Linked DNA regions of Homo sapiens. The protein of the gene in region 2 purifies or fractionates together with the protein of the main gene of each other region. This does not show direct contact. Each region holds a gene or a part of one and is shown on either strand. Other genes may lie near its edges.

Region 1 (2,739 bases), on a different chromosome or scaffold from region 2:
TTTTTTTTTGAGATGGAGTTTCACTTTGTCACCAGGCTGGGGTGCAGTGGCGCAATCAATCTCGGCTCACTGCAACCTCCACCTCCCAGGTTCAAGTGATCCTCCTGCCTCAGCCTCCTAAGTAGCTGGGACTACAGGCGTGCGCCACCACCCTCAGCTAATTTTTGTATTTTTAGTAGAGACGGGGTTTCTCCATGTTGGCCAGGATGATCTCGATCTCCTGACCTTGTGATCTGCCCGCCTCAGCCTCCCAAAATGCTGGGATTACAGGCGTGAGCCACCGCGCCCGGCCTCTTCAGACACTATTTAATCTTCTAAATCCCTTTTAGTTCCTCACCTACTCCCTTTCCTCAAATACAGCCACTATGTGAGTCAATAACTCCAGAAATAAATTTTACACTTGTCATTCTCTCCATTCCTGATAACCAGTTACTAAATATAACCACTGTTAGAAAAGCCCATGAAAAACTCCCATAAAATAATCTTCAAAACTTCTGTACTTTAGATTACTAAAGCACATCTTTATTTTGCAATTGAACATTAAGAGTCATAGCTAGAGTTGTTTGTCATGTTTGTACCTGAACAACTGTTTCTCAAAATGAAATATGGCCAACAAAATATGTGTAACAGCATTTCACATAATATAAATTGCTCTTAAGACTAAAACAGTATTAATGCAAACCAGCATTTTTATCTTGTTTGCTGTAGTTGTAATTTTTTTGTACATGAATGGCAGAAATTCTAATTTTTTCACTAAAATTAAGACAAACACACAAGGCCTTTCAAGCATACAGTAAGCTGCAGTGACAAATGCAGAGTGATTTCAAATTATGCAGTGTTGACCAAATTCAAGCTTATACACATTTTAAATAAACCCTTAGCTTCTTTGCCTCAATTATGAGATCATATGGAAAGAGATATTTTTGTGATATAGGGGGAAAGGTAATCTAAAAAACTAAGGGACCAATTCTGTTTTGCCACTAGTTTAATAGAATCAAACATGAAATGAATAATTGTATCTTAATTATGACATAAGCTAGACTTTTAACTAAGTGACTTTTCCCCTTCATATTTACAAATAGCACCTGTTACAAGAAAAAAAAAATCCCAAATTAAAACACCCTCCACATAGAAATAATTATTTTTAAAACTACTACTTAAAAATATCAATAATGCAGATATAGTAAATTATCGGTTCTAAAATTAAGCCTACACTGTAGAGAATAAGGAGTAGCTTTTCTTATTTGAAAAGATTACAACATAGATTACAACTGTAATGTCCTGATGCTGGAGAACACTGGGTTGAACAATTTTTATTTTTTTAAGCAGATAGAGTCTACTGGCAGAAAATAAAAACAGTTTAATGTAAACTGTTTCAGTCTCTTAAATCGTGCCCCTCAACATGTATATAAAGTGTCGGGACTTTTATTCCCTTAAACTTACTTGTGCAGCATCTACTTCACCCTAGGTACTACACTGAAAACAAATGGATTTCTAAGTATTCATGTGATGCACAAAAAAATCCAAAGCAGAAATGATAATAAACCAAGCTTAGATGAAACTAGCTGTGAGAACTCAGAGTCCAGTAACACAGTCAACTGGTTATCCTTTATTGTGCTACATAAATTACAGAAAACCTGCAAAGCTAAGATCACACAAGTTGCTCTTAAACATCAAATAAGCTGTGAAGAGATCATTATATTTAAACCTGGGTCCAATCTAATGACCTCCAACACTAATTAAAATTTTCCCACGTTTACAACACTTCTAGGATAATTTTATTTTAAAATGTATAAATTAAGTTGGTGGTCAGCATGAAATAAAGTGCAACTATTTAAAATTCAAAAAATCAAATTTAGCATTGAAATTTGACCTAATCTTGCCAACTCATTAAAAGATGGGAAAAGACAGGTGCCAGAGAATCCCAGACTTGGGTTAAAATTTTCTTACCCAGGAAGGCAAATAACTTGAACACTACAATTCAGGAGTAGAAACTAAAAAGCTTCTTTGAATATATGTTAAAATGAGCTCAACTGTGATGACAGTGGGGAAGTACCCAACTGCCAATTTGTGGAGAAAGCATGAACCAGCACCTGTTTGGGTCTAAGGGTGTGAGCGGGGCTATCTCCCCCTTGACGGATTCCTGGTAATAATTGTACTTAGCGATGTGGCATTTAAGCTTATCACAAGTAATATTTGCTAAATTTTGGAAACTCCCAGGGTTGAGAGAGCCTGACACCAATCCTTTCAACAGTTATAGCAAAGTTCATGAAAGAAGAGATCACTTTGTACTTGAGTACTTAACAAAGAGTTAAATTAGTGATTTTTAAAAAGTTGGAGACGTGGAAAGAGAAATAAAAATAATGAAGTCCTCACTGAGTCAAGTTTCATGAGTGATGAATAATAAATACCACCTTTTAAAGCAGCTGTTGCACGTATTAATCATACCTACAAAGGTGGTTTAAGATGTAGTTCTTGTTCAGCTGAATTAATATAAACTCGTAAGCATATAAGACATCACTGCTACAATTCAGAGTTGGGCCAAGTTGTCTCAACTGTCCAAGACATTGGGAATAAAAAGGCAAAAAGCATTTACTGGGTCAGGGGCCTCTGCACATACTCACTGTAATGAATCTTAGGCACAGTTTTCTGGCTTCACAAAAGTCACACCCTCACAACAATGTCCTCATTTGACAAAGCCTGGCAACGTTCTCTATGGTAAACACATGCAGCAACACA
Region 2 (3,500 bases):
TCTGGGTCACAATTACCAGCAAAGCATAAATTATCAAACTGATGATCCCCAGACACCCAAGGTGTGCCAAGTCATTCCCTCCACACCCCCTCCCTCCAAAAAAAAAAAGATCCCCGGCACTTCTGCTAGCACTTGCTTTTCCTGGAGTTTTTATCTCAGTCTGCTCTCACTGCCAACTCTGCACTGTAGTCATTTTTCCCCCTCTATGCTTGTTTCTTTATCCTCTTTCATTTTATTTTTTTAATTTCTTTTGAGACAGAGTTCTGCTCTTGTCGCCCAGGCTGGAGTGCAATGGCGCAATCTCGGCCCACTGCAACCTCCACATCCTGAGTTCAAGTGATTCTCCTGCCTCAGCCTCCCGAGTAGCTGGGATTACGGGTGCCCGCCACCATGCCCAGCTAATTTTTGTTATCTTTAATAGAGACGGGGTTTCACCATGTTGGCCAAGCTGGTCTCAAACTCCCGACCTCAGGTGATCCACCGGCATCAGCCTCTCAAAGTGTTGAGATTACAGGCATGAGCCACTGCGCCCGGCCTTTATCCTCTTTCATTTGCTGCTTCTTCCCAGCTTGAACATAGCATGACATAGCTTATATGTAGAAGTTAAACAGGGTCTGAGAAGACTGGCATGAAGAAAAATGTAGGACCTTGAGTCCTCGACCTTCTTGGCTACATGCAAATAAGCAAGGGTGCTGGGTGGCTGAGTTCCAAATAAGAGTTTAGGGTAGGAGAGGTGTTATTGGATATTATGGAACACATTATGGGAAGAACTATATCCAACGCTATAAATACACCCTGCTGTCCACTTTGGGGCCAACTTGCATGGGAGCAAAATGTGTAGCAAGCTTTGGAAGACAGGTCCCAATGACTGTAGGTCTCCTTCTTACATGCTGCAGGAATACAGGGCTTCCTGTCCCACTGTCAGAACAGCTGACTACAGGTTAACTTCTTAGAATCTTATGGACATTCTCTGTCAGGAACAGAACATTCATAGTGTGAGCATTTCCTTAATTCCTAAGGTCTCGTCACACAGTAGGGTTTTACTTACTTATTCAACAAATACTTATTGGAATCCTACTGTACAACAGGCACTGGGGATGTAGCAATGAACTGAAGGAATAGAAGCTATATGAGAATACTGGTTCCTTTCTAATACTACACACACACACACACACACACACACACACACACACAGTCTCACAGCCTAGGAAGTAAAGGATGTGAGTTTTTAAGAGCTTCCGGCACCTGTAGAAACCATCTCTCCTTTTGGGACCCTGTTCCCAAGGTAAAATCGACTTCATTCCTCCTGCATCTTTCCCTTCCAGTCCCAGCTCCGATTCTGGCAATAATCAGATCAACTTCTAGGACCCTCAAACTGTGTTTCACAAAAGGCTGCATGCACAGCTACCACTGTGCCCACGAGAACCCTATTTGGGTTGTGTTCAGCCCAAGTCTGCTCAGCATGAAAGAGAGTGCAAGTCCTTAAAAATCCATTCCTTGAGCTTACGTAGGGCTCCCTCCCCAAAGGCCAGCCGCCAGAACTGTATAAAGCCCTCTTCTCCCTAGTGCTTGCATTCCCAGATGGCAACAGCCCACCTAGGGCTGGACTCGACCCTAACACTACCTTCTTCTCCCTAATCCCATGGAACAAAAGCTGTAGCAAATGAGACCACAAGCCCAGATTACTCTAAGGGTGGGACCACGGCTGAAGCCCATCACTCCCTGTTGATCACACTTTGTACCATTCTCAATGCTGTCTGGGCACAAAGATGAGTCCAGCACCATTCCTGTCCCCAGATAGCAACCCAGTTAGCATGGCCAACCTTTATCCCCAGGCAGCTGACAGACAGAGGGGCTACCAGCAGCTCTAGATGGGCCCCCTGCTGATCAGTTTAGTCCACGTTGTCCAGTTTTCTTTCTCCTGACTTCAGGTCACCCAACACTAACATGCTTGGGGCTGTTCAGGGCCCTCTTTGCAACTTCCTCTAATATCAGATCATCTAGCTTTTACCCGTCTCCAGGCACCAACTGGCAGTCCCAGGAAGTTCCTTCATCACAGGGCCTGCCTGGCTGCCGAGTGTGCAGCGACATACTTGGGGGGTGGGGCGGGGGGGTGGAACTGGCCATGACCACTTCCCTAGGCCTCATCCTCCACTGCCCATCTCTCACTTCCTGAACTAGGGCAGGGTCTCCAGGAAGCCACTCACCACAAACTTTGACAGCGGTACTTTAGATTAAACCCCTCCCTTTGTAGGCCCGTGGTTCCAGCAGAGAGGGTCGGAGACTCAGCAGATCAGCTGGGTAGAAGCGGCTAGGAGTTAGGCAGCCGACCCTGAGTTCTCATTGTGTCTGTCACTCTGTTACTTTAAATTCTGGTCCCTGGCGAACCCTTATTCAAAGTCTTCCGAGCCATCTCGAAGCCTCCACCAGAATCCTCCTGCCACCCTTCTGGGCTTTCCTAGGACAGCTCCACCCACCATCTGCCCCCTCCCTCACTTTCCCTACCCCTTGTCCCCGCCCCACTCCGCTTCCGACCTCCAGGCATAATTTACCTGCCGGAGGCTGGGGGAGGGGTGGACAGCCTTCCCAGCTGTGAGGCAGAGTCGGGAGGTCAGGGAGAAGGTGTGATTCATTGAGTCTGGCTGGAAGCAGGGGGAATTCCAGAGCAAGAGGGGGGTGGTCAGGGCTGCCCCTGTCATCCTATCTGTAGGATGGGGGTGGGCATAGGACATACCTGGGAGTCCCACGTCCTCAGCCATCTGCAATCTAGGGTAGGGCAGGAAAGCCTCCCTAACCAGAAAGTTTTTGCCAAGGTTTTCTATTTTCCCCTCCCTCTAATTCCCCACTCCTGCCCAATATCTAAAATGAAAAGCTTTGCACCTACAGTCCTTAGCAATGACATTAAATATCTCATGCTACCCCTGCAGAATTTGGTTGGAGAAATAGTTTATCGAACCTCTCTATAGTCTTTGCTAAGCATTCAACATACGTTATCTCACTGTACATTGCCATGATGCCGCATGTGGTAAGTATGATGACTAACTCCACGTTGGGTAAGAAACACAGCTCAAAGGAATTTAGCACCACATCAAAGTCCACAGGGCTAGTGAGCTGTCAAGCCAGGGATTTGAAACCAAGGTGTGTCCAACTCCAAACTCTGTTCCTCGATGCCACAGTGGGATGAACTGGGCTTCAAGTTAGAAAAGGCAGCGATGAAGAAAAATACCGCCTTCAGGCATCACCTCAAAAGTACCTTCCTCCTGGAAGCCTCCCTGGCCACCCTATCTAAACTGTCACCTCACCCCTTCCATGACAATTCACACCTACCTTCCCTATCATATTTTTTATTTCTGTTTATCACTAACACACTTGCTATTTCAATCTTGTTTATTGTCACTTCTGCTAAAGTCAGCTCCACTGGGTCAATAATTATTGTATATTTTCTTCACTGCTGTGTCTTCTGCATCTGGCATTCATACATAGTAGGTGCTAACTCCTTA
Region 3 (3,500 bases), on a different chromosome or scaffold from region 2:
GCTTGGAGGGTGCCCAGGAAGCCTAGGAGTTAGTGAGCAAGTCCCTGTGTGCCCTGCTGACAAGCTCTGTGGCTCCCCAGGAGAACTGTCCCAAGGCCCAGGGCTCTGGTCTGCTGAGGTGTATGTATGGCTGGGGGGCGGTGTCCAGAGGAGGCTGCTGGATTCTTCCAGCATTGCACTCAGGACCTTTGTTTGGTAGAGGCTTGGCAGCAGTCATCTCGCTGGACAGTGGTCAGCGTGTGCTTTGCCTTAGCCACAACATGTGGCCTGGGCTTTTGGGGAGAGGGTGTGCGTCTGGGGTGAAGCCCAGTGATGTTAATTCCTCCCAAGGCAGAGGCCCTTGCGGAAGTTCGGGAGGGTGCAGGTGGGTGACTCACCTGAGTGGGCTGATCTTCTGCCTGTCATGCGTCCTGGCAGGTGGGTCCGATGGCTCCCGGCTCTATGACTGCGTGTGGAGGTACAACTCAAGCGTGAATGAGTGGGCGGAGGTGGCGCCCATGCTGAAGGCCCGCGAGTACCACAGCTCCTCTGTGCTGGACGGACTGCTGTACGTGGTGGCCGCCGACAGCACCGAGCGCTATGACCACACCACTGACTCCTGGGAGGCCCTGCAGCCCATGACCTACCCCATGGACAACTGCTCCACCACTGCGTGCCGTGGCCGGCTCTATGCCATCGGCTCCCTGGCTGGCAAGGAGACCATGGTGATGCAGTGCTACGACCCGGACACCGACCTGTGGTCGCTGGTGGACTGCGGCCAGCTCCCGCCCTGGTCCTTCGCCCCCAAGACTGCGACTCTAAACGGACTCATGTACTTTGTCAGGTGAGTTCCAGGTGCCGAGCCCCACTGTGTGTTTGGTGTCTCTTACCAGGCCCTGTCTTAAGCACACATCATGGCTGTTCTCCCTTTTCCACAGATGAGAAACTGAGGCCTAGCTGGGGTTGGAGGCTGGGTCTGTCTCTTTGTTTTTGTTTTGTTTTGTTTTTGAGACGGAGTCTCGCTCTGTCGCCCAGGCTGGAGTGCTGTGGCGCAATCTCAGCTCACTGCAAGCTCCACCTTCCGGGTTCACGCCATTCTCCTGCCTCAGCCTCCAGAGTAGCTGGGACTACAGGCGCCCACCACCATGCCTGGCTAATTTTTTTGTATTTTTTGTAGAGACGGGGTTTCACCGTGTTAGCCAGGATGGTCTTGATCTCCTGACCTCATGATCGGTCCGCCTTGGCCTCCCAAAGTGCTGGGATTACGGGCGTGAGCCACTGCACCCGGTCTGTTTTTTTTTGTTTTGTTTTGTTTTTTTAAAAGAAGAGTTTCGCTTTTGTTGCCCAAGCTGGAGTACAGTGGCGCGATCTTGGCTCACTGCAACCTCTGCCTCCCAAGTTCAAGCCATTCTCCTGCCTCAGCCTGCCAAGTAGCTGGGATTACAGGCATGTGCCACCATGCCTGGCTGATTTTTATATTTTTAGTAGAGACAGGGTTTCTCCATGTTGGTCAGGCTGGTCTAGAACTCCTGACCTCATGTGATCCAGCTGCCTCAGCCTCCCAAAGTGCTGGGATTATAGGCACAAGCCACCACACCTGGCTCATTTTTTAACTTTTTGTAGAGACAGGGTCTCGCTGTATTGCCCCGGCTGGTCTCAAATTCCTAGCTTCAAACAATCGTCTCACATTTCCTGCCTCCCAGAGTGCTGGGATTGTAGGTGTGAGCCCCCACACCCAGCCAGGCCTGGTCTTTCGGAGCCCACAGTGCTTGTTCCATTCCTTTGGGTTTAAGGAAAACCCCAGGCTTTCTTAAGCGATTTCACAGGTGGTGGAGTTGAGCTCTTCCAGCAAGAGTAGGCTGTAGGCTGAGCAGCACGGAGCAGAGACAGGCAGCCTGCGGGTCATCATATGTCTGCTGGCCTTGATGACCTGTCTGGTCACAGCCAAATGCTGCCTCCGGCTGGTTTCTGGGCATCAATGATGGCACGGGGCAGCCCCTCCCTGCTGTACTCCGCTGCTTGTTCACATAATCCTGCTGCTCCCTCCCAGCCTAGAGCCTGCCTGAAGCTCTGGGTCCAGGAGGGAAGGGGAAGAACTGAATGACAGTCCCCACTGTGCCCTTTCGTGCTGGGGCTTTGAATGGGGAGCTTGGGGGATGTGAGCTCCCTGCTCCTTGGCCCCCTGCCTCGCACTGCCAGAGCTGCCCTGGCCTTGGCATCTGCCCCACCATCCCCCCAGACAGGAGGCTCCTTACCAGGCTTTTGGAGTGAGCACCAAGAAGAACAGGGGTGGCGTTGCTTGTCACGCAAGTAGCTGGGCACCACCACATGCCCAGAACCAATGGTCTTGCTCTGAGAAAGCCCTGGAATCTCAGCCAGCTCTGGTCCCATTATAAAACATCATCTGACCCTTTGCCCGGCTCTCCCTCCCCCAAGTTGTGAAGGTGTCTTCAAAGAGGGGGTGGAGATGGCTATAAATACAACTTATCAGAGGGCCAGAACCTTCCTTTCGGCCCCTAGGCAGTGGTTCCAGGCCCAGTGTCTTTGAGAGTCCTCCTCCCCTCCCCCATCTGTCCTAGAGCAAGATGTGAAGATGTGCGCCAGGGAGGTCTGCCTGCTGGGTTAACCTTCCCATAGGGAAGCATGAGGGTCTGCCCCGCCACCCCCACCCACTGCTGACCTTTCCAGGGGTTTCCTAAGCCACTTGCACGTGTGGGAGGAGGCAGTGCTCTGGAAAGGCTGCATGCGTTCATCTTACCAGTGTGACCTGTGCCGGAGCACAGAGGAGGGGCGCCCAGGCTCAGCCTGAGTGGAAGCTGCTTGAGCCCTAAAGAGAAGGCTAAGCATGCAGGGGCCCTGCTTGGGGCTGGTCCCCCTGGGCTATTTGTCCCGGTGTCACTTTGTCTGCGCACTTTGGCTCTTCAAGAGCCACATAACCCTCTGCCCAGAACACCACCTGTCTTTGGGCAGCTTGTGCCTAGGACGTGCCATTCTCAGGGAGGCCACAGCCTCAGCCGTTGTCCATGTGACCCACAAATGACCTGGGCCTCCCTCCCCTTGGTTCTGGTACAAAATGCCTCCTTGGCTGGGGTGCAGTAGCCCCCTCTGGGAATGCCGGCGAGCTCTGTCCAGCCTCTGGGCTGTGGTTTGCAAGTCTCTGCTGGGGAAAGACAGGGCAGCCTAGCAGGTTCCAGGGTGTAATCATCATCATCATCACCACCACCACAGGGCCCACAAACTGAGGGTGACTTTGACATTTTGAAATGATTGGGGGCAAAAAATCAGGAATAACATTTCAAGTTAGACGAGATGTAAATGTCTGTCCATGGATAGTTTTCTTGGCACACAGCCAGGCTCGTGTCTATGCATTGTCTGTGGCTGGTTTTGTGCTGCCGTGTCAGGTTCACAACTACTGTTGTTTGTCTTGTAGTATCTTTGTTTCTTTTTTTTGTTTTTGAGACGAAGTCTCACTCACTATGCCTCCCAGGCTGGAGTGCAATAGCACGCTCTTGGCTCACTGT
Region 4 (3,500 bases), on a different chromosome or scaffold from region 2:
TATAGAGGAAGAGAGGAGTTGAGCTGAGTTCCAAAGGATGGGTAGGATTTGTAAAGGTGGACTCGTGGCTGGAGAGCATTCCAGGTGGATTAAGCAGCATGAGCAGGGGTTGGCGGCATGAAAGCTGACTCTGGGTGACAGTGAATAAGTTAAGTTGTTTGGAAGGGAAGGGGTTGGTGTTGTGGAGAGGTGGGAGGAATCACCAGCTCTCCATATGGCCATTGGCTAAGGCCCAGGTTTTTAGGTCTACCTTTATACCCAATCTCCACATCATTCAAAATCCTGGGTGTACAGATGTATATGTATTTGTATGTATCTCATCTGTGTGTCCTTGATGACTCTGAGAACTGGCTGTGGTTCTCATTGTACAGATCAGTGATTGTTCATGACTTACTTATACATTAAAATAGTTGGTTCCCTGTAGCCATAAACACAGTGCCAGCAAAGGGTAGCACCCTTACCCTCCTCTGAAACTATAAATTCTGACCCAGACAGAAAACAGTCCTCTCTTTCCTTTCACTTTGCAGAAGGTGACCAGAAACCCACCACTGCGTAATCCAGGTGCTGTTCTGTGATGTTGAAGTGTTTTTGTCTCCTGGAATATTGGTGGTTGGGCACATATTTCTGGTTGTATATAGCTGAAATTGAGCGTGTTTGGTCCATTGGTATATATGGATGTGTGAGTGAAATTCCCATGTGTGCTTGTACCTCATGACTCCTGCCCTCCCAAGCTGTAGTTCCTGCTCTTACTCCCCAGTCTGGAATGTCCTGTCCTCCCTTCCCACCTGGCTCTTCTGCAAGGCCTGCTTCCTTCCTTTAAGTCATGTAATAGTCAAGCACTCAAGGCTGCAGGTGCTTCATGGGTCTGTGTTTTCTCAACAGCAGCACCTAGCATAATGCTGGGTACAGAGTACATTCCTTCATGACAACATTTTTTTGTAGAGAGGGAAAAATGCTTGTTACTTTTTTTTTTAAAAGCTTATGTGGCATTGTCCTTTTAGAATTATCTTCTTGTTTTGCTATTAATCTGGCCTTCTTTTTCCCTCTTGGAGCTAAAGCTTGATTTTTAGACAACTGCCACAATTGATGCAACTTTCTCCTACCATTTTTACTTTTAAAAATTGACCTAGGCCGGGCGCGGTGGCTCACGCCTGTAATCCCAGCACTTTGGGAGGCCGAGGCAGGTGGATCATGAGGTCAGGAGATCCAGACCATCCTGGCTAACAAGGTGAAACCCTGTCTCTACTAAAAATACAAAAAATTAGCCGGGCGCGGTGGCGGGCGCCTGTAGTCCCAGCTACTCGGGAGGCTGAGGCAGGAGAATGGCGTGAACCCGGGAAGCGGAGCTTGCAGTGAGCCGAGATTGCGCCACTGCAGTCCGCAGTCCGGCCTGGGTGACAGAGCGAGACTCCGTCTCAAAAAAAAAAAAAAAAATTGACCTAGATGTGTGTCTGGATGGGGCAAGAGTAAAAGAGTGATGTGGATTACTGCGAGTTAGGATATCTGAGAAGGAGCTTCAACTTATATTTCTTGCTTTATAACAAAACCTGCGGCCGGGCGCGGTGGCTCACGCCTGTAATCCCAGCACTTTGGGAGGCTGAGGCGGGCGGATCATGAGGTCAGGAGATCGAGACCATCCTGGCTAACACCGTGAAACTCTGTCTCTACTAAAAATACAAAAAAAATTAGCCAGGCGTGGTGGTGGGTGCCTGTGGTCCCAGCTACTTGGGAGGCTGAGGCAGGAGAATGGCGTGAACCTGGGAGGTGGAGCTGGCAGTGAGCCGAGATTGCGCCATTGCCCTCCAGCCTGGGTGACTGAGCAAGACTCCGTCTCAAAATAAATAAATAAATAAAACCTGCTTGTGTTCTAACAAAACCCTGGAATATCTGAGAAGGAGCTTCAATTTATATTCCTTGCTTTATAACAAAACCTGCTTGTATTGTGAGGGCTCCTTCTTTCCCTCCCAGAAGTCTCTTGTTGGGGGATATTTCTTTTGACTTTTTGGTGGAGATGGAGGTGGTGGTGATAAGTTCCTCATTCCAATTTCCAAGGGTCTCTGCTCAGGCGTAAGACCTCTGTATGAGTCCTGCCTGCTTCCATGGTCAGGAGCAGTTCCTGCCAGCAACCCTGATGACCACTTGAAGCCCTAACCACAACATCCCTGTCCTACCATGTTCTGCTTTCTCTGTAGCCACTTCCTTTTTGGATGTGGAGCTCATTGGTTCCTTTTCTCCTTACATGGGCCATTCCTATACGTGAGTTCTTCCAGCATTAACATCAGCTTTGCACCCTCCCTCTGAGAGTCCTGCCAGGGCAAGCTGCTTGCATCTGCTCCTCGGCGTGCTCCTTACTCCGCACACTCCTCACTCTCAGCCATGTGCGTGAAAGGAAGAATGCAGGCTACTGCTCAGGAGTGGACTTGAGCCACGGACGGTGTCCTTGACAGAAATGCTTTCCATTTTATAGGACAATGAAATATACGTTAGACTTCCAGAGGTCCAGTTTCTTAACTTTATTTGTTATTGGTTCCTGTTTTGAGAATAAAGCATCTATTCAGTCTGATATCTTGGCTTCTCAGAAATTTAATTTTTCACCCTCTCTTTTCTTACTGGGTTTTGTCTTCCATAAAAGCAATCATCTGAAGCACTGTGCATGCCAAAGCTCCATGCAACTTCTCTTTTTTAATCTAACACAGTATGTCTTTTGTACCTTTGCTTAGACCTGGGATTTTCAGCCTTGTCACTATTGACATTTTAGACATTTTAGACTTTGTTGTAGGGGCTGTCCTGTGTGTCGTAGGATGTTTAGAAGCATCCCTGGCCTCTACTCACTAGATGTCAACAACTCCACTCCTCTTTCATTTATGACAACCAAAAATGTCTCTAGACATTGCCACAAGTCCCTGGGGGGGTTGTGTGTGGGTGGGTGTCTTTGTGCTCACATGCATGCAATATTATCCCTAGCTGAGAGCCACTGGCTCTTGCTGTTTTCACCCCCTGGAATGTCCTCCTTTCCTCATCTCTGCCCTCATTCCCTGCCTGCCATACTCTTACTCATCCTTCAAGACCAGATGTGAGAAATCTTTCCCAATCCCCCAAAACAGGTCAATGTCACATTCTCATGTGCTCTCAGGATACATGGACATTTATTCATAACAGAGAATTTATCATATTCATATTCCTCACCAACCTATGGAATCCTCAAAGGCAGATAGCCTGTTCAGAGGTAGATCCAGGTTTTCTGGTGCTTTGAACCTCATAATGCTTGGGGGCAACCACCTTTAAGAAAAAGAATGTAAATCATGAATGCAGAATAAAATGCAAGGCTTTGGAAGGGGAAGGTGCAAGTGAGTGGCTGTGAAGCAAACCTACCTTTAATCCTTTTGCGTTTTCTGTGATGCTACAGAATTTGCCCTTCCCCATGTTTAATACATCTTAAAATGAATTAACTGAGTACTCAAATGTTGGCTGATTGGTCTTCAACCAATGGAATTATTTCT
Region 5 (3,500 bases), on a different chromosome or scaffold from region 2:
TAATGGTAGGTCTTTCCAAAATAGTCTACCTGTTACTCTGTGCAACAAAAACAGATAACCAGTTTGCAGGGAATCTGGATGTAAGGAAATGTGCTCAACTTTAAGGCTCTGTTGAATATAGTTTCATACTGTATAATTTAGAAGACTAAAGATCTTTTTTATTGCATAACCTCTGTGTAACAATTTACAGTTTATGAAATGCTTTCTCCAGTATCTCACTTGATCATAAGCAGTACCCTTTGAGTTAGCTGTCATTATCATCTATCATTCATGGATGAAGGAGACTGAGCCACCGTGATCAAGTCACTGTCCCAGATCGTACAGCTTCTAGGTATAGAGCCAAGATTCAAACCAGGTGTCTTGAGCTCACATCCTGCATTCATACCATTGTATCACACTGATCCCCGGTAAAGATTGATTGTTCCTGACTGCAGGTGTATTAAATGCTTGCTAATAGAAAGCCATTGTGGTAGATTGCCAGAGAAACGAGCTTTGCTAGCTCTTTACATCCAGAGCCTTATGTTCATTTGTCTGAAGGCATTCACATTTTCAGTGTACCTGCTTTTTTCATGCAGTGCCTTTCCAAGTTTCTCTTTTTTGAATAATTTGCATCCCATACAAACATTATTAGGTCGGTGTTTAGAGATTGAACTCCATCATATTGCCTGTCACTAATCCACTGCATAGAAAAATATGAAAATAATGTCATTAACATCAGTTTTTCTTATAATAGCTATGTACTGCTGCTTTAACTGCCTATCAATTATAGGTAGAGAGTACCCTAGACTGAAATCTACTGAGTGACCTGACAGGTCTGAATGAAAGCCCAGCACTCCTAGACAACCAAGGGTCTGTTGTGTGGCCAGAAGGGTTGAGTTTGTAGCCATGGAAGTGAGCAAAGACCAGTGGTCCACCTAGGAATTATCTTCATATGCTCAGACTAAGATTTTGCCATCTCTACCACAACTGACTGATTAACACAAGATCTATAAACGAAATATTCCTGTGCAAGAGAGTGGGGTACAAAAAAGAGAAAACTGTTTCTTCATAATTGAGAAGGTTCCACGGAGGAGGGGAGATGGTTAATTTGGAAACAAGAGAGAAATCCATGACATGGGAGGTTCTGGAAAGAGGGCATATGATAGGCTCTGGGTAACGGGCAGCTCTAGGGAATAGAGAAAGGTCACTGGGTCCTTTGCCTTGAAGAAAAGCTTTTATCTTTCCTAAAGACTTTTATATATACTTAGGACCTTTGTTTTGCGTACATTTTTATGACCTAAGTTTTTGAATTTAGCCTTATTTTATGTGGACTTTTCATGTATTTACATCACCTAACTTTTTAATTCCATTCACTGTTACATAAATATGTAAATAAGTAATAGTTTACTTAATCATTTCTCTATTATTTACTGATACATGAGTTGCTTCCACTTATTCCATATTAGAAATAGTACAAATAAAACCATATTTTTACAAAGAGTTTCTTTTTCTGAGTCCAGGTACCAAAATTAAAATTACTAGGTCATCATATTAATTCTCTGTGTCTTTTTCATATTGCCAAGTTGTTCTTTGAAACGATTATATTAATTTACAGTGTCACTAGCCTCAAACAGTGGGTTTTATGATCTCTTGAATTTTGTTCTCATTTTATCAGATGAGGCATTACCACATAGCTGTTTTATTTTGCTGAGCCAAACATCGTGTCAAATGTCAGTTTGCTATTTGTATTTTTTTCTAACAGGAGCTCTATTCAGATCAGCAGCCTATTTGTGCCATAGAGACTGAGTATTCACTTTCTAACTTTATGTAGTTTAAAAATGTTAAATAGTCTAGTTTTCTAAGTAGTTTAGTTGTTTTAATATTATTTAATAACTCTTAGCCAATAAAAAATATTGGGACATGTGCAGTGTCCAATAAATCCAAAGTACATTTTACTTTAAAATATAAAGAAAATATAAGATATGTTTTTCCCATAGTATACACATCCTTTAAAGGAATCAGGTTTGAGCTGTTACAAGAGGAGGCAGGTGCTGCCCCAGGGGATGGATCAAAACCTGGAAATAAATCAGCTGAGGGTGGCACGTAGCCTGGCTGTCATGCCAAGGCTGGGAGTTTAGTAGAGATGCTGGAGTTGATAATGGAAAAATGGTAATCTATGATAAATTTGTCAGTTCATATCAAGAAATGGGCTAGAAATCAAGGCTAGGCAAGGATGGGATGAAAATGTGCTTTTGTGGTTGGCCTGGGCTTTACCAGCATCCTGCCCTTATCTTAAAGGAATGGAGTGACTGGAACAAGCAAATGGAACAAGAGGGTGGCTCCCAGGCATTCCTGCCACTGACCTCTGGCCCCTGTTCTTTAACTGGAATCATCAAAGATAAATGAAAGTCGCTTAGGGTGAATGCACATTGAGAACAGGGAATCACATAGTTCTTTCACCATTTCTGCTTTAAAAGTCGAGCAGTTATGCAGCTATCTACCGTGTGTGTGCATGCATGCACGTAGGTGTGTAAAAGACATACCCTGTTGTAATTTACTTTTTCTTTGCAAAAAAATCTGTTGGCTTGTCTTGTCCTGGGAATGAGATAACTTTTTAAAAACATTTTTCTAATGTGTGTTTTCCAATTTAAATACAATTCACTGAAATATTTTCTTTCTAGTCTCCAGAGAATACAGAGGGCAAAGATGGATCCAAAGTAACTAAACAGGAGGTAAGTATATCTTTGACATCCTATATTTAATTATTTACATTGAAATGTTTAATATTGTTAGGATTGTCTGCATCTGAATGAAATGCGGACAATTGTATGAACAAAGTTTAATATGAATGATCAAGGTTGTTAAGACTACCTGAAAGAGCGATAAGTGTCTATATGTAGTCTCGCTTGGCCTAGGTGTGTTTCAGTTGGGTATATTGATGAGGCATTTTCCACTTACTGTGTTGTTTATGTTTCTACCTGTCAGCCCTGCTTTCTGTTAAAGCAGATACTGAGAATTCCTTCTGGGCAAAGAGTAAGATAATAGGTAAATTCATCAAGGAGAACAAAGTCTGCCTTTCACAGCAAGAAAATGAAAGACTGTTGATCTCATAAATTCTGTGCTCCAGTGAGTGGATTATAAGTCACTTTTTAGGTTCTGAATATTTTGCCTGAGAAGGATCATCTCTAAAATCAAAAACTATAGGCCGGGCGCAGTGGCTCACGCCTGTAATCCCAGCATTTTGGGTGGCCGAGGCGGGCGGATCACGAGGTCAGGAGATAGAGACCATCCTGGCTAACACGGTGAAACCCCATCTCTACTAAAAATATAAAAAGTTAGCCAGGCGTGGTGGTGGGCGCCTGTAGTCCCAGCTACTCGGGAGGCTGAGGCAGGAGAATGGTGTGAACCTGGGAGGTGGAGGTTGCAGTGAGCCGAGATCACACCACTGCACTCCAGCCTGGGTGACAGAGCGAGAGAGACTCTAAAAAAAAAAAAAAAAGAAAAAGAACTGTAGAGGGATA
Region 6 (3,500 bases), on a different chromosome or scaffold from region 2:
GGCCTGGGTTTCAGGCCCAGCTTTGACACTTGCTGGCTGTGAGCTTTGAGCAAGTTAACTTGAGTGCTCTGTGACTCAGTTTCCTCATCTGTAAAGGAGACTTAGAATAGTACCTACCTCATAGGGTTGTTGTGAAGGTGAAATGAGTTAAAATGAATGCTTGTTGATGTTAGTCACAGAGCCTGGCACACAGAGTCTCACTGTGTGTTATTATAATTATTATTATCATTGGTTGTATGCAGAATAGTGACATCACAGCAACCTGCCTGCCCGCCCACCAGCCCCCCGGCAGGCCAAGCCTCGCCCTGCCTGCAGGCTGGTGCTCATGTCATCACCAGCTCTCTTCCCAGCAGTCGGCGGGAATCGTCAATGCTGCTGCTTCCCCTAGCTTGCCCTGACACAGGAGAACACCGAGCAGGGGGCCCTCAGGACCCCAACCCAGCTGGGCTTCTGACACCCTGGTTGTCACCCGAAGCCCTGGCCGGGGCCCCAGTGCTGGTCCTCCTATGCTAACACAGCCTGCCTTGGGTCCCAGTGGGGAGGGCCCCGAGGCGCCTTCAGTGGACGCTGAGCAAGGCCAGCAGTCCCTCGTCCAGAGCAGCTGAACCCTGAACTCTGTCTCCTTCCTGGCCCCTTGTGAGGCCCTAGGATGAGGGGATCATGGCCATGCTGGAGGAGGCGATGGGTGCAATGCTCAGCAACCACGACTTTGCGGTTTTCAGAAACAGACGTGACATGATTTTGTATCTGGGCCTCACACGCATACTAGGAGCCAGAGGTGCCTCACTGAAGAAGTTAAACAATGCAGCCATCCCCAAACCAGCTGTCTGCCAATCAAACCAAACCCACCACCCAACGGAAGCTACTCTGCCCGTGGGAGGCACTGGCCAGGCCACAGTGAAGGATACTGAAGCTCCTGTCGGTGATGGCCAGGTGCCAGAGGTTGATGCGCAGGTCATCCGCCGACATGTAGGTCTCGCAGTCACTGTTGACGGAGATGGAGTTGATGTGGTAGGTGTGGCCATTGGCAAAGATCCTCCGAGGGCTCACCTCCACCATCAGATCCATGGGCTTCAGCACTGGCACCTGCAGAGGATGAGGAGGCAGGGAAGAGGTGAAGGCCAGGTGGTGGCATCAGGACATAGCATGCCGTGAGCATGTGATCCCAACCGGAGGCTGGAACACAGGGGTGGGCGTCCATCCTGATCCTCCGTGGTCTGAAATAGGCAGTGACAGATGGCAAATGCCCGCCGCCCACCAGCCCTGCAAGAGAGGCATGGATGCTTACCTGCTGTGGGTCTGTGAATAAGTGGCTGAACCCTCCTATACCCCAATTTCCTCAACTCTAAAATGAAACAAAAAGATACTGTGGCAGAGCCAGCCAATTGTCTGCCAGGCCTCCTCACCTCCTCCTGCAATGCAGTGCTGTCACTGGGAAACAGCTGTCTACATGTGGACTACATTTCCCAGCAGCCTTTGTGCCCAGACATGGCCACATGACTAGTTCTGACCAATGGGATGTGAGCAAAGTGATACCTGGCCCTGATGCAGCTAAGCAGCGGGAGCACCTTCCCCACCTGGAAGGTGAGGACCCAAGCCTTAGGGACTGAGACTCATGGGATGGGGATGGAAGGATCCTGCAGGAGAGCTGTGTCCCAACCAGCACATCCACATCGAACCTTCCCATAGTGAGAAATGCATTTCCGTGCTCGGCCCTGGACTGCTGGTGTTGTTTTGTTACAGCGGTGGAGTTAGCCTGACTCATACGAACTTTCATCTCAGACAGTTGGTGCGAGGAGTCCTTGCCATGGCATCAGACACTGAGCTTTCACAGCCCTGAAGGTCCCTTGCACAGCCCTGACCAACCCTGAGGCTGTCAACTGGTCCCATCAGCTTTCCCAGTGGACTAGGGATCAGCTACGGGAGCAAGGCGTCACCTCTTGTTTATCTCTCCATCTCTCTAGCGCTCAGTCCAAGGCCTAGCAGAGAGACTCTCCAGTGAATGAGTGAATGTGTGAGAGAATGAATGAATGGGCTGTGTCCCTGAGCTCTCAGGGAACAGCTGAGATGGGAGGTGACAGCCTCGGTGCTGCAGTCGGAGTGACAAGCACTGAGCTCCTTTGGAGCAGAGGCAGCTCTGCAGCCCACGTTAAATTTTCCCACACACCAGGGCACCCAGCCTGTGTGTGTGGGAGTGTGCATGGCTGAGAGTTCATGTATGAGTGTGTGCATATGAGTGTGCATGTGAGTGTGCATGCATGACTGAGTATACGTGTATGTGCATGCATGTGTGTGTGTGTGTGTGTGTGTGTGTGCACGCAGCACCGGTGTGAGTGACAGCCTGGCTCTGGGTGGTTCTTGCATTGTTGCCTCTGTGTCTTTGCTTCTAGGTTGTGTGCCTGGGAGTTGGTGTTAGTGTGACTCCTCCAAGGCATCCTCCCTGCACGTATTCCTGTGTCAGATATTTTAGCTATGCTGCTAACCTTCCCTTCCTTCGGGGTGCAGCCACTGCCCACCCTGGGGATCCCTGGACTCTCAGGAGAGAGAGGGAGCCCAGCTGCTCTGGAGAAGGGCAGAGCATCACTGGCCCAGCAAAGTCTTGGCATCTCAGTCCACCTCCTGCTTCCTTCCGGCAACATTGCTTTCTGTTTTCTCCAGGCGGCCTTGGGACCCAGTTCATCCAGTGCTCCAGCCATTTGCTGCCATCCACCAAACCAGAGCTCAAAACCAGTTTTTTAGTAAAGAGAAGAAGAGAGAAAGGAAACCTTCCCTGAAGGTTTGGGGGTTTCATGAGTAAAACATGCTGCCTCCGCAGAAGCCACAGTCTAGTCAAGATGAGGGGCAAGGAAGATACAGACACTAAGGACAGACAGTGTCGGATCCAAAAGGCAAGAGGGGACACAGGAAAGATCACAATTGTCATCTGGCCTGCGCAGAAAGGCTTTACAGAGGTGAAGGCCAGTAGGGTTTTATGGGATGTATGGGAGTTCACCAAATTGACAAAGTAGAGAAAGGCCTCCTGGGGTGCCCACGGCCTCTCTGTGTTCCTCTGTCACCGCACTGAGCGCCAGTGTGATGGCGATTCCATGTCTGTTTCCTTGGGGGCTGGGGACACTTTGGGGACAGGTACTGAGTTGAACCTTGCTCACCTCTAGGGCCCCAAGGGCTAGCCCGGGGCCTAGCGTGGAGCAGCTCCTCAGTAAACAGCTGCCTCCAGTGTGAACTGCGCAGGGTGGGTAGAATGCTGTGCAGGGTTGGCGTGGCGTGGGTGAAATCGGAAGCAAACAAGGTGAGAGGCAGGATGAGGACAGACCAGGGCACCCAGGTTCTCAGTGACAGTTAAGTGTCTTGGGATGTGTGTGACTTACAGAGAAAAATCTCCAACGCTGGGAGGGACATAAACAGGATTTTTATGAAGGCCACTGGCTCTGCCCCAAACACCAGGGTGATCAAGATGTGATCGCTGTATCCTTCCCTCTAGATGAAACCCTCATAAACTT
Region 7 (3,500 bases), on a different chromosome or scaffold from region 2:
ACAGGAGTTTGAGTCCCTATAAAAGGAGGAAATGGGCTGGTTCACACTCTTGCTATCCGCTTTCCAAATGTTTTTAGAAAACAATACTACAGGATATTTTAGAAAAGCTCCTTTGCATGGTCTGTACCACATGGAAAGTCTTTAACTGGTGTCAAGCATCTCTGGAATGCACACAAGCACCCTAGTTAAGATCAGCTTCCCAAATCATAGTTCAGTTCATGAAAGGGCATCTTGCTATGCCCAGGTTCTGCCTGTTAGCTCTGAAAGCAGCGGCTCTGGCTTGTGCTCAAGAATGTTTGGCTCTTCTCCCTAGATCAGGTGACCTCTGCCCAGCCAGGTCACCATCTTCAGCATACACTGTTCTTAGCAAGGAAACTGCTGGGGACAACAAAGCAGTGTGGATTAAAAAATAAAAAAGTAATGGCGACTGTTTATGCTTTCTACTTCTGCCTGTATCTGCAGGGCTGATCAAAAGGCAGCAGTGAGATAGAAAAATTTTATCTTTCTCTTTGCTTCATCGGCCTGCTAGGTAGAGGGAATTTACTTGCTAGTATTTCATAATCAGTTGATAAAATAGCTCTAAAAACTTTATCTGTACAAGTATTTCAGACTGCTACATTATGAGCAAGTCATGTGGCTAAAAATGATCATAAATGGGGGAAAAGGAGGGGGTGGAAGGGGATCAATTCTAATGGAAACGGAAAGATTCTATCAGCCACCAGCCTGCTGCATTTTAGAACGCTGAGATTATTTTGAGTCTTCTGGCTTAATGTCAAGCAATGCCAGAAAGTCCTTTTCCATTTCCACCTGCAAATTTCTCTTCTTTGAAATACATCCCAGAGATTGGGGTAGTCTCTTAGAAAGTCACCTTCCCTGCAACCTCGCTGAAATCAGTTGTCCTGTTTGGCACCCATGCGTCCACCTAGCACACGCCCCAGCTTCTGGAGAAGAGTGACATCCATACTTCCCTGAATGAGTGCCCACCCCCAAGCTCCTGTGAGTGAACATGCCATGTAACTTCTCCCTCTGGCTCTTTATTTCAGAAGTGGTGACACGCATCTTTTTGATAAGGTCAGAGGCTATGACATCAAGCTGCTTCGATACCTGTCAGTCAAATACATCTGTGACCTGATGGTGGAGAACAAGAAGGTGAAGTTTGGCATGAAGTAAGTACAGGCGCCCACTACAAAATGAGCAGAGGCAGTGTGTACAGATTTGCAGGGCTGGCGTTAGTATGTAGCTGTCACTGCGTGCTGGCCTTCTTACAAAGGGCTTTCTGTACATTATCTCACTGTATCTTCAGACAGCCCTGCAAAATAGGTACCAGTGTCCCCCTCTTACAGACACTGAAGCACAGAGAGATGAAGTAGCTTGCTCAGGTTGTATGTTAGTGACTGAGGCAGCCATCAGTCTCTACCCAGTGCTCTGCTGCCACCTTCTCTTACATATCTCTGTATTTTTTTTTTCCAGCTCCATGTTCTATGCCATGTGTGGCAGATTAGAATCTCTTAATTTTTTTAATTTATTTTTCATAGTGACAGAGTCTTTGTTGCCTAAAGTGGTCTCAAACATGTGGCCCTAAGCAGTCCTCCTGCCTCAGCTTCCCAAAGTGCTGGGATTACAAGAATGAGCCCACTGTGCCTGGTCCTAGAATTTCTTTTAAAATTGAACAAAAAAATCAGCATATATTCAAATTTTACTTCAGTGACTGCTGTCATATAAAAATAACACATATGGACCAAATTCAAATATAAGAAGTCAAAACTAAAAAATAGAGCCTGGGTTAGTGATGAGACTTCAGGAACTTTTTCCAAAATTTTGTTTTTTAAATGATTTTTAAATGTTTTTAAATGATCCTAAAAGGTGGTCTTAGAAAATAAGGCATACTGAGGCTAACGTTAGAGCTCACCTATCTTCAGATCTGAATATTGCCTTATTCCTCCCATCCTTTATCTGTCAGAGTCCCCAGTGTTTATTTTCAGATGCTGTTTGTTCACCCTGTTCAGAAGTGGGCTCAGTGACTATTAGAGAAGACAGGAGAGCAGAAAAAAAGGGTTCCCATAGGATCATATTATTTGGCTCTCATCTCATTCCTGGGTCAGAGTGGCTACACTGTGTGCATTTTGGGGTCAGGTGGAAGGTTGTTTTCCACCTTTAGGCTCTGATTGAGGCTTGCTGTAGTATTAGAGGGGGAGTAACTTCCCTTGGTTGATATGTTGGAATAGGGGCAGAGAAGGTAGAGTTCTTTTTTTGACATGGAGCCTCACCCTGTCACCCTGGCTGGAGTGCAGTGGCACAATCTTGGCTCACTGCAACCATCTGCCTCCTGGGTTCAAGCAATTCTCCTGCTTCAGCCTCCTGAGTAGCTGGGATTACAGGAGCGCGCTGCCACACCCCACTAGTTTTTTATATTTTTGATAGAGACAATGTTTCACCATGTTGTCCAGGCTGGTCTTGACGGGGTTTCTCCATGTTGGGAACATGACCTCCAGCCGATGCACCCAGCTGAAGTTATAGTTCTTAATTGTACAAAGTAGGCACTGCTGAAGGGAATTATTAACAATGAAGAATAGTTTTTTTTAGCAGAAGCTTCATTTGTGATTATAACCCTTATTTGGGGAATGGTGTGTGTTTGTGTGTGTGTTGCGACACTGTAACACATTGTATCCTTGTCTTGTAGTGTAACCTCCTCTGAGAAGGTGGACAAAGCCCAGCGCTATGCCGACTTCACTCTCCTCTCCATCCCGTATCCAGGTAGGGGGCTCTCTTCTAGTGGCAGGCATCCTAGGACTGGGGACCTTGGGGGCCATGAGCAAGCCCTCTCTACTTAGTTACACTGGCGCCCTGGGAGCTTTCCTGGAGGGTTTGTGTCAGGCAGTGTAGGACATTTTGGTTCCCAGTCACAGGCCACACTAAGCATAGGATAGTGTCCTGGGGAAGGGGCTTTCCACTCAAGGGGTTTAGGGATTTTGTACTGTCACTGGTCCTAGCCACAGCCTTGAGTGAAGTACTTCACCCCTCCAAGCCTCAAGTTTTCTCAGGAGCTTGGAACGATTTAGCTCAGTTTTGATTTATATGAAAGTGGTCTGTGCATGAAAATACTGTTTAAGTGTAAAATGACATTATTAGTACTCTGTGTGAGCAACTACACTTGCTGCTGTAGCCTGAGTGGATGTCACCCTTTGGGTGCATGTCTTGAAGTGATTGAGTTATTTATGGAAATTGCCCCAGGCAAGGCTATTCTGGTGGTAGAAGAACACATAATTGCTATGTTCCCAGTAACTGGACAGTGGCCACACCATGTTGCAAAGCACATTGGTATCCACAAAGCTGCATTTGTTCCTGGCACATAAAAGTGTGTGCAACCTGTGGCCAGGGCTGTATTCTCTGCACTGGATATTAAAGCTGTTGGTCTAGTGTGTAGCATTCAAGTTTTCTGGCAATACCTGCCTGTTTAGTAAGGGAGGCCAAGGACCTCTAACATCAGTGCAAGATGTTGT

Evidence for each region.
Region 1: the proteins of PLEKHG3 (region 2) and PTPN4 purify together in Homo sapiens (co-immunoprecipitation; one large-scale study listed by IntAct). This does not show direct contact.
Region 3: the proteins of PLEKHG3 (region 2) and KLHL21 purify together in Homo sapiens (affinity purification with mass spectrometry; one large-scale study listed by BioGRID and IntAct). This does not show direct contact.
Region 4: the proteins of PLEKHG3 (region 2) and MYO1D purify together in Homo sapiens (affinity purification with mass spectrometry; one large-scale study listed by BioGRID and IntAct). This does not show direct contact.
Region 5: the proteins of PLEKHG3 (region 2) and HMGN3 purify together in Homo sapiens (affinity purification with mass spectrometry, with the first as the bait; one large-scale study listed by BioGRID). This does not show direct contact.
Region 6: the proteins of PLEKHG3 (region 2) and PPP2R2C purify together in Homo sapiens (co-immunoprecipitation; one large-scale study listed by IntAct). This does not show direct contact.
Region 7: the proteins of PLEKHG3 (region 2) and MTMR14 purify together in Homo sapiens (affinity purification with mass spectrometry, with the first as the bait; one large-scale study listed by BioGRID). This does not show direct contact.

What each region holds. Positions count from the first base shown.
Region 1 is NC_000002.12:119,982,661-119,985,399, reverse strand, and holds the end of PTPN4 (tyrosine-protein phosphatase non-receptor type 4), read right to left. Parts: 3' UTR 501-2,739; downstream 1-500. UniProt on the Homo sapiens protein: Phosphatase that plays a role in immunity, learning, synaptic plasticity or cell homeostasis. Regulates neuronal cell homeostasis by protecting neurons against apoptosis.
Region 2 is NC_000014.9:64,707,424-64,710,923, reverse strand, and holds part of PLEKHG3 (pleckstrin homology domain-containing family G member 3), read right to left. Parts: intron 1-3,500. UniProt on the Homo sapiens protein: Plays a role in controlling cell polarity and cell motility by selectively binding newly polymerized actin and activating RAC1 and CDC42 to enhance local actin polymerization.
Region 3 is NC_000001.11:6,596,370-6,599,869, reverse strand, and holds part of KLHL21 (kelch-like protein 21), read left to right. Parts: intron 1-417; coding exon 418-823; intron 824-3,500. UniProt on the Homo sapiens protein: Substrate-specific adapter of a BCR (BTB-CUL3-RBX1) E3 ubiquitin-protein ligase complex required for efficient chromosome alignment and cytokinesis.
Region 4 is NC_000017.11:32,870,625-32,874,124, reverse strand, and holds part of MYO1D (unconventional myosin-Id), read left to right. Parts: intron 1-3,500. UniProt on the Homo sapiens protein: Unconventional myosin that functions as actin-based motor protein with ATPase activity. Plays a role in endosomal protein trafficking, and especially in the transfer of cargo proteins from early to recycling endosomes.
Region 5 is NC_000006.12:79,214,183-79,217,682, reverse strand, and holds part of HMGN3 (high mobility group nucleosome-binding domain-containing protein 3), read left to right. Parts: intron 1-2,660; coding exon 2,661-2,711; intron 2,712-3,500. UniProt on the Homo sapiens protein: Binds to nucleosomes, regulating chromatin structure and consequently, chromatin-dependent processes such as transcription, DNA replication and DNA repair.
Region 6 is NC_000004.12:6,371,615-6,375,114, forward strand, and holds part of PPP2R2C (protein phosphatase 2, regulatory subunit B, gamma), read right to left. Parts: intron 1,087-3,500; coding exon 909-1,086; intron 1-908. UniProt on the Homo sapiens protein: The B regulatory subunit might modulate substrate selectivity and catalytic activity, and might also direct the localization of the catalytic enzyme to a particular subcellular compartment.
Region 7 is NC_000003.12:9,670,005-9,673,504, forward strand, and holds part of MTMR14 (phosphatidylinositol-3,5-bisphosphate 3-phosphatase MTMR14), read left to right. Parts: intron 1-1,043; coding exon 1,044-1,166; intron 1,167-2,680; coding exon 2,681-2,754; intron 2,755-3,500. UniProt on the Homo sapiens protein: Lipid phosphatase that specifically dephosphorylates the D-3 position of phosphatidylinositol 3-phosphate and phosphatidylinositol 3,5-bisphosphate, generating phosphatidylinositol and phosphatidylinositol 5-phosphate.